Linked DNA regions of Homo sapiens: region 1 is linked to region 2. The links come from fine-mapping of genetic effects on gene expression. A gene starts in region 2. The other region holds a variant in brackets. All regions are shown on one strand. Distances are from middle to middle. Region 1 has its middle 11 kb from the start of BAHD1. Region 2 holds the start of CCDC9B (coiled-coil domain containing 9B).

Region 1 (5,483 bases), 90 kb after region 2:
GAATTTTCTTGAAGAAAAAAAGGTATTCCAGGCCCAGGAATATCTCAGCACAGGCAGTACCTCCGCTCCTCAAAGGTGGCCAGTGGATCAGTGGCGGAAGTACAGAGGGCTGCCCTTGCTGGCAGAAGAAGGAAGGAAGGAAGCAAGAAGACTAGGGCTACGCTCGCACTGGCAGAGAGAGACACAGCTCCAGATCCAGATCCATTCAGACACAGCTTGTGCCTTGTGCCCGTCCAGGAGCAAACATGGGTGAGCATGCACATGGACATGCATACGTCTGCACACACTTTCAGAGAGGCTGTCAGACACGCTGCAGGAGCAGAGGCAAGGAGCGTGAACACGCAGCTGCTTGTGGGAGATAAGCCCAGCGCTGGGGGCTGCCTGCCTGGCCTGCCTTGAGAGTCCCCTTGCACATCTGCCTGGGTTCCCAAGAGGCAACCTCTACAAAGACATGTGTTTTCAGGACAACCTGCCCCCTCCCGCAAAGTCTTTCTATTTACAGGAATAGAGTAGCAAAATCCCTTAGTTCATACTTGAGTCTTGTCTGATGCTGCAGGCTGGCCAGGGCTGGGCATACAGTGGGTCTCTTTACTTGTTGAAGTAGAATAGTTAAATGAAATTTACTATAAGATAAATTAAGATAACTTTACTATAAGATATATTAAGATTTAAAATAGGGGGAAAGAGGAACCTGAAATGAGAAAAGGGTAGTGAAGGAAGACTTGATGTCCTTCATAACTGGCCTGCATCCTGCCCAGCCCCTCCTTTCTTTCCAGAAGCCCACCAGTGGCCCAGAGTGGAAGGGTGGGAGTCAGACCAGTCCAAGGTTGCTAATTAAGACTGGACTGCCAGGCACGGTGGCTCATGCCTGTAATCCCAGCACTTTGGGAGGCTGAGGCGGGCAGATCACCTGAGGTCAGAAGTTTGAGACCAGCCTGGCCAACATGGTGAAACCCCGTCTTTACTAAAAATAAAAAAATTGGCTGGGTGTGGTGGCACGCACCTGTAATGCCAGCTACTCAGGAGGCTGAGGCAGGAGAATTGCTTGAACCTGGGAGACGGAGGTTGCAGTGAGCCGAGATTTGGCCACTGCACTCCAGCCTGGGTGACAGAGTGAGACTCCGTGTCAAAAAAAAAAAAAAAAAGACTGGACTGTTTGTGGGTTTTATATGACTGCTGCTTGAGACTGCTTGAGAGAGCTGAGATCTGCTCTCCCTTCCTAAGACTGCTTCCAAGGCCCGGAGCTGGCAGCAGTTCAGAATCACCACCTAGATATTGAGATCCAGCCAGTTCCAGGTCCTCTTGTACCTCTTCCCAGCCCCTCTCTCCCAGGTACCCCGGGCAAAGTATACTCTACGGTCCTTTGAGGCTGGAGAAGCAGGTGGTTGTGAAATAGGCTGGCCTTTGGGACCTCCCTCTCCCCTGGTACCCTCCCTCCCTAGGAGGCTGCTTGGCTCCAGAGTGAAGGAGCAAGTGGGGGCCCTCCATAGTCTTCTCCTTCCATGGCCAAGCCGCCCAGGTGCTTGGAACCTGGCCACACACATCCAGGTGCCCCATTCACTGGCCCTCCAGGCTGTCAGAGACCTTTGTATTGCAGTTTTTCTGCCCTCCCACCTGATCACCCACACCTCCAAGGGGGCTGCAACCTCCTGTTCGGGACTCCTGAGCCTGGAGAGAGGCTGTGGGGGGTGGGGCAAGAGCCCTGGAAGTGCCCCAGAATGTGGAGCCTGTTGCCAATAGGGGCAACAAGACAATCTCTCTGTAGGACTGACTGTGAGGCCTCCCCAAAGAAGGATCGGGCAGAGAAATGCAGGGTCCTCAGCCCTGCCTGGGACATCTGCAGCTGCCTCAGAGCTCACATTGTGTGGATCCCAACAGCATTTCCCTCAGTAATGAGGACCCAGCCCGGTCCCAATTCTGCATTCCCCTCATCCCCAAGGCTGGAAACTCCCTATGGCCACTCCTGTGGGCTCAGCCATCTTACACTACAAGCTCCTCTGATAAGTCCCATCCCTCCGCCCAGCCTGCCCACTCACCAGGAACAGCCATACAACTCATTTCCCTGCTGCCCCATGGAAACTTCATCTCTCTGTGCCTCAGAGGGTCTGCCAAGCCCCTGTGGCCCACCACTCCATCCCCTGCCAGTGGATGCTCTGGCATGGCCAGCGTCCTCACTTAGGCACCTGTCCCCCAGCTGGCACACCCCAGGATCAGCCCACACGAGTGACCTGCCCCCACATCCACCAATCCCCTGCTCAGTTAAGAACTGGCATTTGCTGAGGGACTGTTATGTCCCAGGGTGCCAGGGATTCAAAGACTAGTAACAGTACGGGGCCAAAAAAGTTTACGAGTTAGTTGGGGAGATAGACATAAAAACTATGAGACATCTCAATTACTCCAATTTTAATGTTACCCATTCTTTAAGACCCAGCATGAGCACTAACCCATCTACACGCCCACCTGTCTCTGGTTTGCTGCCGTATCCCCAGCACTTTGCACTTGGCTCAGTGGAGGCCCTCTCCCTCCAAATAAATACTTGCATAATGAATGCAAAGCAGGGGGCGGGGGCAGGCTGCAGGGAGGATAACTTCTTCGCCCTCCACCAACCTTATCTAGATGAAATCAGATTTAAATAAAACATCAAGGGCGGCCTTGGAGCTGGGAGGGCAGGAGTGGGCAGGGGGGA[A/G]TCTCAAGGCTTCGCCTTGAACTAAATTCTTCCATCTTTTTAGTGGCAGCTAAAAGAACAGAGTTCTGGGGCCGCAGCCTCTAGCTTCTCAGGGAAGCCATCTGGACTGCCGAAGCCAGAACTGTAACTTTTATGCCTCCAGATTTCAATGAGTCTTCCTTGTCAAACCCATAACCAATTGTTATCCAGTTGTTGAATGAATCAGGTCAGGACATTTTATAGTAAAAATATGTACAAGTCACAAAAAGTACAAATGTTGGTGATCACTCCTGAAAACAGGCAAACTGGGTCAGGATGGGTGTGTTTAAAGGTAGGGAGGCAGAGCCTGGCACGCAGTGTGGCTGCAAGAGGTAGTTTTCTAAGCTAATATGGAAGTCTAGCACTGTGGCCACCTGGCAGAGCAGTCAGGGTGCAGAGCCGCTGCGGCACAGGCAAAGGCTTGATTTCTCTGCCATTCATTCATCACTGAGTAGCTGTTACTGAGAACCTATCATGTGCAGGTACCCTGTGGGCCATGGAGAAACAGGAGGACCCAGGGAGACGCAGATGTGGTTTTCACCCTAGCCTAGCCGGGGAGGCAGATCTTAGCCAGGAATCACCGGCTTGCCAGGCTTGCTAGGAGGAGAGCATTGCAGGTTGCGGAGTGTGACTGAGCCCGAGAGATGAGATCAGAGGAGCCTCCTGGCTGGGGCGGCAACAATAGTCAGTTCCAGATTTGGATCTTTATGCTGAGTGTAAGCAGGAGTCACGGAAGGGTTTAAGCAGGAGAGTGCTATGAGGCAGTCTATTTTGGAAAGATCCCTCTGACTGGGGCAGAGTGGATGCGGGAGGCTGGGCTGTGGTTGATCACAGAGGTGGGAGGAGATTCGAGGCTGGAGACTCCAGTAAATGACAGGCTGTGGTGATGGATTAGCTATGGGTGGCGGCTTGGGAGGGAGAGGGAGGTGCCAAGGATGAGTCCAAGGTTCTTGACTCTTAAAACTGCCAGTGCACCCCACAGTGGAAACATTGGGAGAACACTGAGTTTGCTTGTAGTTGGAAGTTGGCTGAAGTGTATCTGATGTTCTTGAAAGACCATATTGATGTTTCAGTGTCAAAGAGAGTGCAGAAGGCAGGGAAAGGGTACTTTTGATAACGGCTTTGCCAAAGGAATATCTTTTTATAAAGAAATATGACAATCGACTTGCAACATTTTGCCCCCAATCTAACAGTGAGATGAATGTTGCTCACAGCAACTTCATGTGTAAAATTTGAATGAGTTGCTAACAGACATTTGGAAAACATAAGAGTAGAGAATTGTTTGGGGAAGCTTATTTAGGAAGAAGTGATGGAGAAATCATTAAAAGTGACAAGGCTGGGATGTAAACCCTGGCTCCACTATTATTACGCTTTTTTTTTTTTTGTCTTTTTTTTTCTTCCTTTTTGTGGAGAACGGGGTCTCGCTTTATTGCCCAGACAGGTCTCGAACTCCTGGGCTCAAGCTATCCTCCCACCTCTGCCTCCCTGAGACCTGGGATTACAGGTGTGAGCCACCGTGCCCAGCCGGCTCCACTATTATTAATGTGACCCTGGGAAGTTACCGAACCTCTCTATGCCTCAGTTTTCTCATTAGTAAAATGAGAATAATAACACTATCTATTTCATAAGACTGGCTGGGGATTAAGAGTATGTGTAGGCCGGGCGCAGTGGCTCACGCCTGTAATCCCAGCACTTTGGGAGGCCGAGGCAGGCAGATCACGAGGTCAGGAGACCGAGACCAGCCTGGCTAACATGGTGAAACCCCGTCTCTACTAAAAATACAAAAAATTAGCTGGGCACAGTGGCGGGCGCCTGTAGTCCCAGCTACTCGGGAGGCTGAGGCAGGAGAATGGTGTGAACTTGGAAGGCAGAGCTTGCAGTGAGCTGAGATCACGCCACTGCACTCCAGCCTGGGCTACAGAGCAAGACTCCATCTCAAAAAAAAAAAAAAGATTATGTGTAAAGAGCTTAACACAGTGCCTAACTCATGGAATCTCTCCAGGAACATTACCTATCACAGAATACACCCTGACAGAGGGAAGCAATGAAAAAGGCAATTGCTGATTTCCCATAATCCCTTTCAACAAAGAAGAGTTGTTGTCTATATAACTAAGTGTAATTTTTATAAATGCCCTTATTAGATTTTTAAATATAGTATAATATTCACAAATCAAGGGGAAAAATTGTCAGGCCTCTCATATCTAAGTCTTTTTTTTTTTTTTTTGAGATAGATTCTCACTCCATCACCCAGGTTGGAGTGCAATAGTTCCATCTTGGCTCACTGCAATCTCCACCCCCCAGGTTCAAGCGATTCTTATGCCTCAGCCTCCTGAGTAGCTGGAACTACAGATGCGTGTCACCACACCTGTAGAGACAGGGTTTTGCCACATTGGCCAGACTGGTCTTGAACTCCTGGCCTCAAGTGATCCGCCCACCTCGGCCCCCCAAAGTGCTGGAATTACAGGTGTGAGCCACTGCGCCTGGCCTATCATATCTAAGTCTTGATGTCACTTTTCCAGTTACTAATCATCTGGCCCAGTCTTGCTTAGGTCATACACTCTTTGATGTGCTCTTCAGTTTCTGAGGATCACGCCTCTGCTGGGTGGAGTAGCTTTCCTAGGTCAGAAGCAATGCTGTCTGCATGGCCTCCCAAGTCTTCTTGGTGCCTGCACAGTGCAGAGCACAGGTGGCACCATGGTTGGTTAACACCATACTTGTGGCCCAGACTGTAGTCCCCCCAGAGGGTGTCTGCTGGAAAGGGCTGGTCCTGGCTCTTGCT
Region 2 (5,207 bases):
GGAGGGTCCCTGCAGCCCTCCCAGCAGTGCCCGAAGCCAGCTCCATCCCGCACCACAGGCAACCTGCCCAACCCAGCCACCCACGTGGACTTGGCCTTGTCCAGGTCCCACGGGCGGCGCCAGTCACCCTGTGCGTCTCTGTGCCGGGCGAGGCGGGCTAGGTCGATCTGCTCCCGCTCCTGCTTCCACTGGGCATAGTCCCAGCCCGCCTCCGGGGGCTCCCCCACCGGCCGGCTCCAGGGCTCCCAAGAACCCTGTAGGGAGAAGACACTCAGAGTGAGGGGGAGAAGCAGGAAGAGGCTTGGGGTGGGGTTTGGAGACTCCAGGCGCTTCCTCTCTCAAGGTTTCCACATCTCCAGCTAAAAATTAGGCCTGTTCCAGCTCTCCCGTGGAAATGGTTTCCATCCACTTGTTAGCTGTGTGTTTTACATAAGTAATTTAACCTCTCTGTGTCTCATTTCCTCGTGTAAAATGGGGAGGATCTCCGTAGCACCAACCCACAGGGGTGTTGCAGGGGTATGCAGACGGGCCGGAGTGGGAGGGGCCCTGGAAGCTGTGAGCAAGGGCAAGGACTAGGGGCTGCTGCCACCTAGAGGTCACACCTGGCACTTGGCCAGTCAACTCCACCCTCCTGCCCCCTCCCCAACTCCCATGCCACCATCAGCAGGGCTAAATAGGGGAGGGGGCTGGATCACATCTTTGGCTTAAACTGTCTCCCACTTCAAGGCCCACCCAAAGTAGAGACTGGCCAGAGAAAGGGAGGAGGAGCAGGAACTCCTGCATGTGCTCCCTTGGCCACGTCCCCGCAAATGAGGGACATATCTGACTCAGCTTCTCTGCCTCCCCCAAGTGAGGACCTTCAGATCCATGTCCCCATCCCCTCTTGAAGACACACCTTCCGTGCAGAATCTGAGCTGATGGCCACCTGCGTGGGGGGGCTTCGGGTCACACGCCCTCCAGGTGACCCCTCTATGCCTTGGTTCCTTGCTCTGGTAGGCTTTTCACTTACAATCCGTTTGCCCTGGGGAGGATGAAGATGGGCAGTGCAGCAGAGCCAGGGAGGAAGAGGCTGCCTGCCGATGCCTGCACTCCCCACCACCCTGCTCACCTCTGCTTTGTTCTCCATGGTCACAGCCAGCTCCACCAGCTCCCCTAAGCAGAAAGTACCCCCGTGGTCCTCAGCATCCTCATCCTCAAGCATCTCGTTGGTCACTCTGGGTCCACAGGTACCCCTTGCCCAGTTCCTGCTAACCACCCGCTTTTCCTGCAGAACAAAGACCCTCAGGCCACATGGGCAGTGCTGGGCAGGACCTGGGTGCTGGGTCCTCTCGGTGGTTCCCCAGGCCTGGGTTCCAACCCCAGCCCTCCCTGCATTCCCCACAGAAGAGCTGACTCCCACAGGGTGTTCACATGCCAATGGCATGAGGTTATCCAGGGCCCAGGGCCACCCAGCGGCCCAAGATGCCACAGTGGCCCGTCATCTCTGAGCTGGGAAACCCAGAGCACTCAAACAATGGGTCTCTGTCCCTCAGACACTGCTCCTGGCATTCAGCCCCAACTTCTCTGTCCCCCACTTCCTGCAGGGTTTTAGCCCCTGGGGCTTGAGGTTTAGGAGTGGCCTGTGCTTTGTGGCATAGGCGCAGGGCTGTGGACTGGAAAAGGGTATGAAGATGCATCTACTGGGGGTAGGGGGGCTTTCAGCTGTGGCTCTTTGGTGGGGACAGCAGTGGTCCGACTGCAGGAGGTTGGGAGCTGGCAGGTGCACCCCAGAATAGTTAGTAGGAGAGGGGAACAGAGGCAGCTGTCTTTCCCCGACATGGTCTGGGCCTCCACCTCCTTGCTACGAGCCCTGTCTCCCAGGGTGAGGCTTACACCGGGAACCTGGCTGATGGTAACGGTGAGGCCATCAGGCTGGAGGAGTGCTGGTGTGGTCACAGCCATCCCCCCCTGCTCTGCCTGCCGACGGTCCTCCTGGATCTCCTGTGGGAGGGCTGGGGGTCAGCACACGCCATGGCCCCCCAGGTGCACAGAGACATAGATGCTGATAGGCCTACACAGAGAGACACCAGTGGGACACCAGGGGGCAGAGGCGCCACATCACACATCCCCAGGACCCTCACCAAGCCTCTAAGAGGGACCATGCCCACCCTACCCCTGGCCCCAGCCCCAGAGGCGCATTGCTGAGCCTGCAGGGAGACCACCACGTGTGGGGCACAGGGAGCGGCAGCCAAGTGGTTTCTCCTGGCCCTGTGGCAGCCCACTCACCTGGTACCTGCGGAGCAAGGCCTGGTTCTTCTTGCGCAGGGCAACTATCCTCCGATCCAGCTCTGCGTCCTTCTCCTGCCTGCTCATGGGGGACTCGGCTCTGGGAGTTCCCTGCAGAGGCAGGGAACCCAAGCTCCTGACTTCCGGGTCCCCCTCTCACCAGTCCCCAGCTTTCACATTTTCACCACCCAAGGAAGAGATCCCAGACCCACAGCTAAGGTCACCCAGGAAGGAAGGGGATTGCTTAGGGAGATGGCCCAAATAAGGCCCCAAGCCCCCATTCCAGCTAGGCCCGTCTGCCTGTCCCTGCCTCCTCAGGGGGCTCAGGTCAGGGCCTCATACCCCAAGCCACAGCTCCCAGCAGTGGGGTGCCCCTCCCCCAGCTCTCCAGGGAGCTTCACTGCCGAGCAGAGCCTGGAATGGGAGTTATAAATGGCTCTGGCAGCGGAACCTGCCGTGACTGGGAAGCTGCCAGGGGATTCGGGAGGTCGAGGGGGGAGCTGTTTGGCTCCCAGATCCACAACCAGAGAAAAAGGAGAGGCCCTGGCTCCGTCCTGGGCTCTCAGGCCCTGGACCCCGCACCTAGGCCTGTGCCCAGCCTGGAGGAAAGAGCCGCTCCCAGGGGCCCAGCCTCTCCAGGCCGAAAGCTGCTGGTAGTCGGGGCGGAGAGAGCCAGCTCCCCTGGCGGCCCCAGCCCAGGAGTCACCCTGGGCAAGCCATGTCTCTGCATCAAGATTCCAGGTTCCTCTCTGTCTGGATGCAGGTTCTCTGTTGTGACCCTAGTCACAGCCTTCTTCCTCCCAGCCCCAGCTGTCCCCAGCTGCCCCCAGAGGGTGGCTGCCTGGTATCCCAGCCCCCTCCCAGTCCCAAGAAGCCCCCTGCCAAAGGCAGACTGCCACTCACAGCCGAGTGCATGGCAACGGCGGGCACCGAGAGAATTCCAGAGCAGCCCCTGGGGAGCCAGAGTGGGAGGAAAGCTGGAGCCACCGGAGCCGGGCCTCTGCCGGCCTCTCCCTGCCGGCTTCGCTGCTCAGCACACGAGATCATGTTGTGATTACAAAAGACTCCTCTGGGCTCCCAGCCAGGAACGTCGGGCCGCCACCCCCACCCTTCCACTCTCAGAGGGCGAGGACCAGGGCACTGGCAGCTGGCTGGTCCTGCCTAGCACCTCTCCCTGCCCCACCCCAGCGTCCCCAGACAGACTGGTAGGGACTTCTCCCTGGTGGGTCAAGCCTACACAGGAGGCCTGGCTGCCTAGGCCCCAGCAGGACCCCAGCCTGGGCCTGCCTGCAGACAAGATGGGCAGCCAGCGTAGGCCTCTGTGCCTCCCATGAGTAGAAAAAGGCCTACAGCACACAGATGCGCCTGCCCTCTCCTGCTCCTTCTCCTCATCAGCCTTGGTTTAAGTAATTCAAAGGGATCAAGAAGCTCACCTCCCCTAGACTACCAAGTACTACCACATCCCTAAAATGACAACAATAGTCATTCATTCTTTTAGGTTGGACATTGTCTTCTCTGTGCAGTCATGCACCATATAATGACGTTTCACTCAACAATGGACCACATATATGATGGTGGTCCCATAAGATTATAATGGAGCTACAAATTCCTATGGCTTAGTGACATTGTAGCCATTATAACATGGTAGCACAGGGCACTACTTATGTGCTTATGGTGACGCTTGTGTAAACAGACCTACGGCATGACAGCCGCACAAAAGTATGGCACATACAAGTGTGCACAGTACAGAATACCTGATAATGATAATTAACAATTATGTTACTGGCTTATGTATTTACTATACTATACTTTTTATCATTATTTTAGAGTGTATTTCTTCTACTTACAACAACAACAAAAAAAAGTGAACTGTAAAACAGCCTCGGGCAGGTCCTTCAGGAGGAAATCCAGAAGGCATTGTTAGCATAGGAGATGACAGCTGCAGGCCTGTTAATGCCCCTGAAGACCTTCCAGTGGGTCAATATGTGGAATGGAAGACAGTGATGTTGATGATTCTGACTCTGTGTAGGCCTAGGCTAATGTGTGTGTGTTAGATTTTGAGAAAAAAGTTTAAAAAGTTAAAAAAAAGAAAAAGTTTCAAAATAGCAAAAAAACTTATAGAATAAGGATATAAAGAGAAAATATTTTTGTACAGCTGTACAATGTGTTTTGTTTGTGTTTTAAGCTAAGGGTTATTACCAAGAGAGTCAAAAAGTTTTTTTAAATTAAAAAGTTTATAAAGTAAAAAGGTTACAGTAAGCTAAGGTTAATTTATTACTGAAGAAACAAAAATATATATTTTTTAATTTTTCATTTTTTGAGACAGTCTCACTCTGTCACCCAAGCCAGAGGTCAGTGACATGATCATGGCTCACTGCAGCCTCAACCTCCTGGGCTCAAGGGATCCCCCTGCCTCAGCCTCCTGAGTAGCTTGGACAACAGGCGCATGCCACCATGTCCAGGTAGTTTTAAAATTTTTTGTAGAGAGAACGTCTTGCTATGTTGCACAGGCTGGTCTTGAACACCTAGGCTCAAGTGATCCTCCTGCCTTGGCCTCCCAAAGTACTAGGATGACAGGCATGAGCCACCATGCCTGACCAAAAAATCATTCGTATAAATTTAGTCTAACGTAAGTGTACAGTGTTTATAAAATCTATAGTAGCAGACGGTAATGTCCTAGGCCTTCAGATTCACTCATCACTCACTCAGTGACTCACCAGAGCAACCTCCAGTCCTGCAGGCTTCATTCATGGTAAGTGCCCTATACAGGTGTGCCATTTTAAATCTTGTACACCATATTTTTACTATATCTTTTCTAAGTTTAGATATGTAAACACTTAGCACTGTGTTACAGCTGCCTACAGTATGCAGTACAGTAACCTGCTGTACAGGTTTGTAGCCTAGGAGCAATAGCTATACCATATAGCCTGGGTGTGTAGTAG

The links. PIP is the estimated chance that this variant, and not a neighbour inherited with it, causes the effect.
Region 1: its variant is the best candidate, but not a certain one, in a credible set for the expression of CCDC9B in whole blood (TOPMed, PIP 0.67).

Annotation. Positions count from the first base shown.
Region 1 is chr15:40,427,054-40,432,536 of GRCh38, forward strand. It overlaps a transcript of IVD not described here. Among named protein-coding and RNA genes, the nearest start is that of BAHD1, 11 kb to the right of the region's middle. The variant A/G (reference allele first, on the strand shown) is at 2,687.
Region 2 is chr15:40,337,640-40,342,846 of GRCh38, forward strand. CCDC9B (coiled-coil domain containing 9B) reads right to left here and starts at 3,300. Exons shown (of 11, transcript NM_207380.3): 1 at 3,169-3,300; 2 at 2,266-2,376; 3 at 1,873-1,980; 4 at 1,109-1,264; 5 at 896-1,021; 6 at 85-254. The coding sequence starts at 3,180. RefSeq lists an enhancer at 2,393-3,196.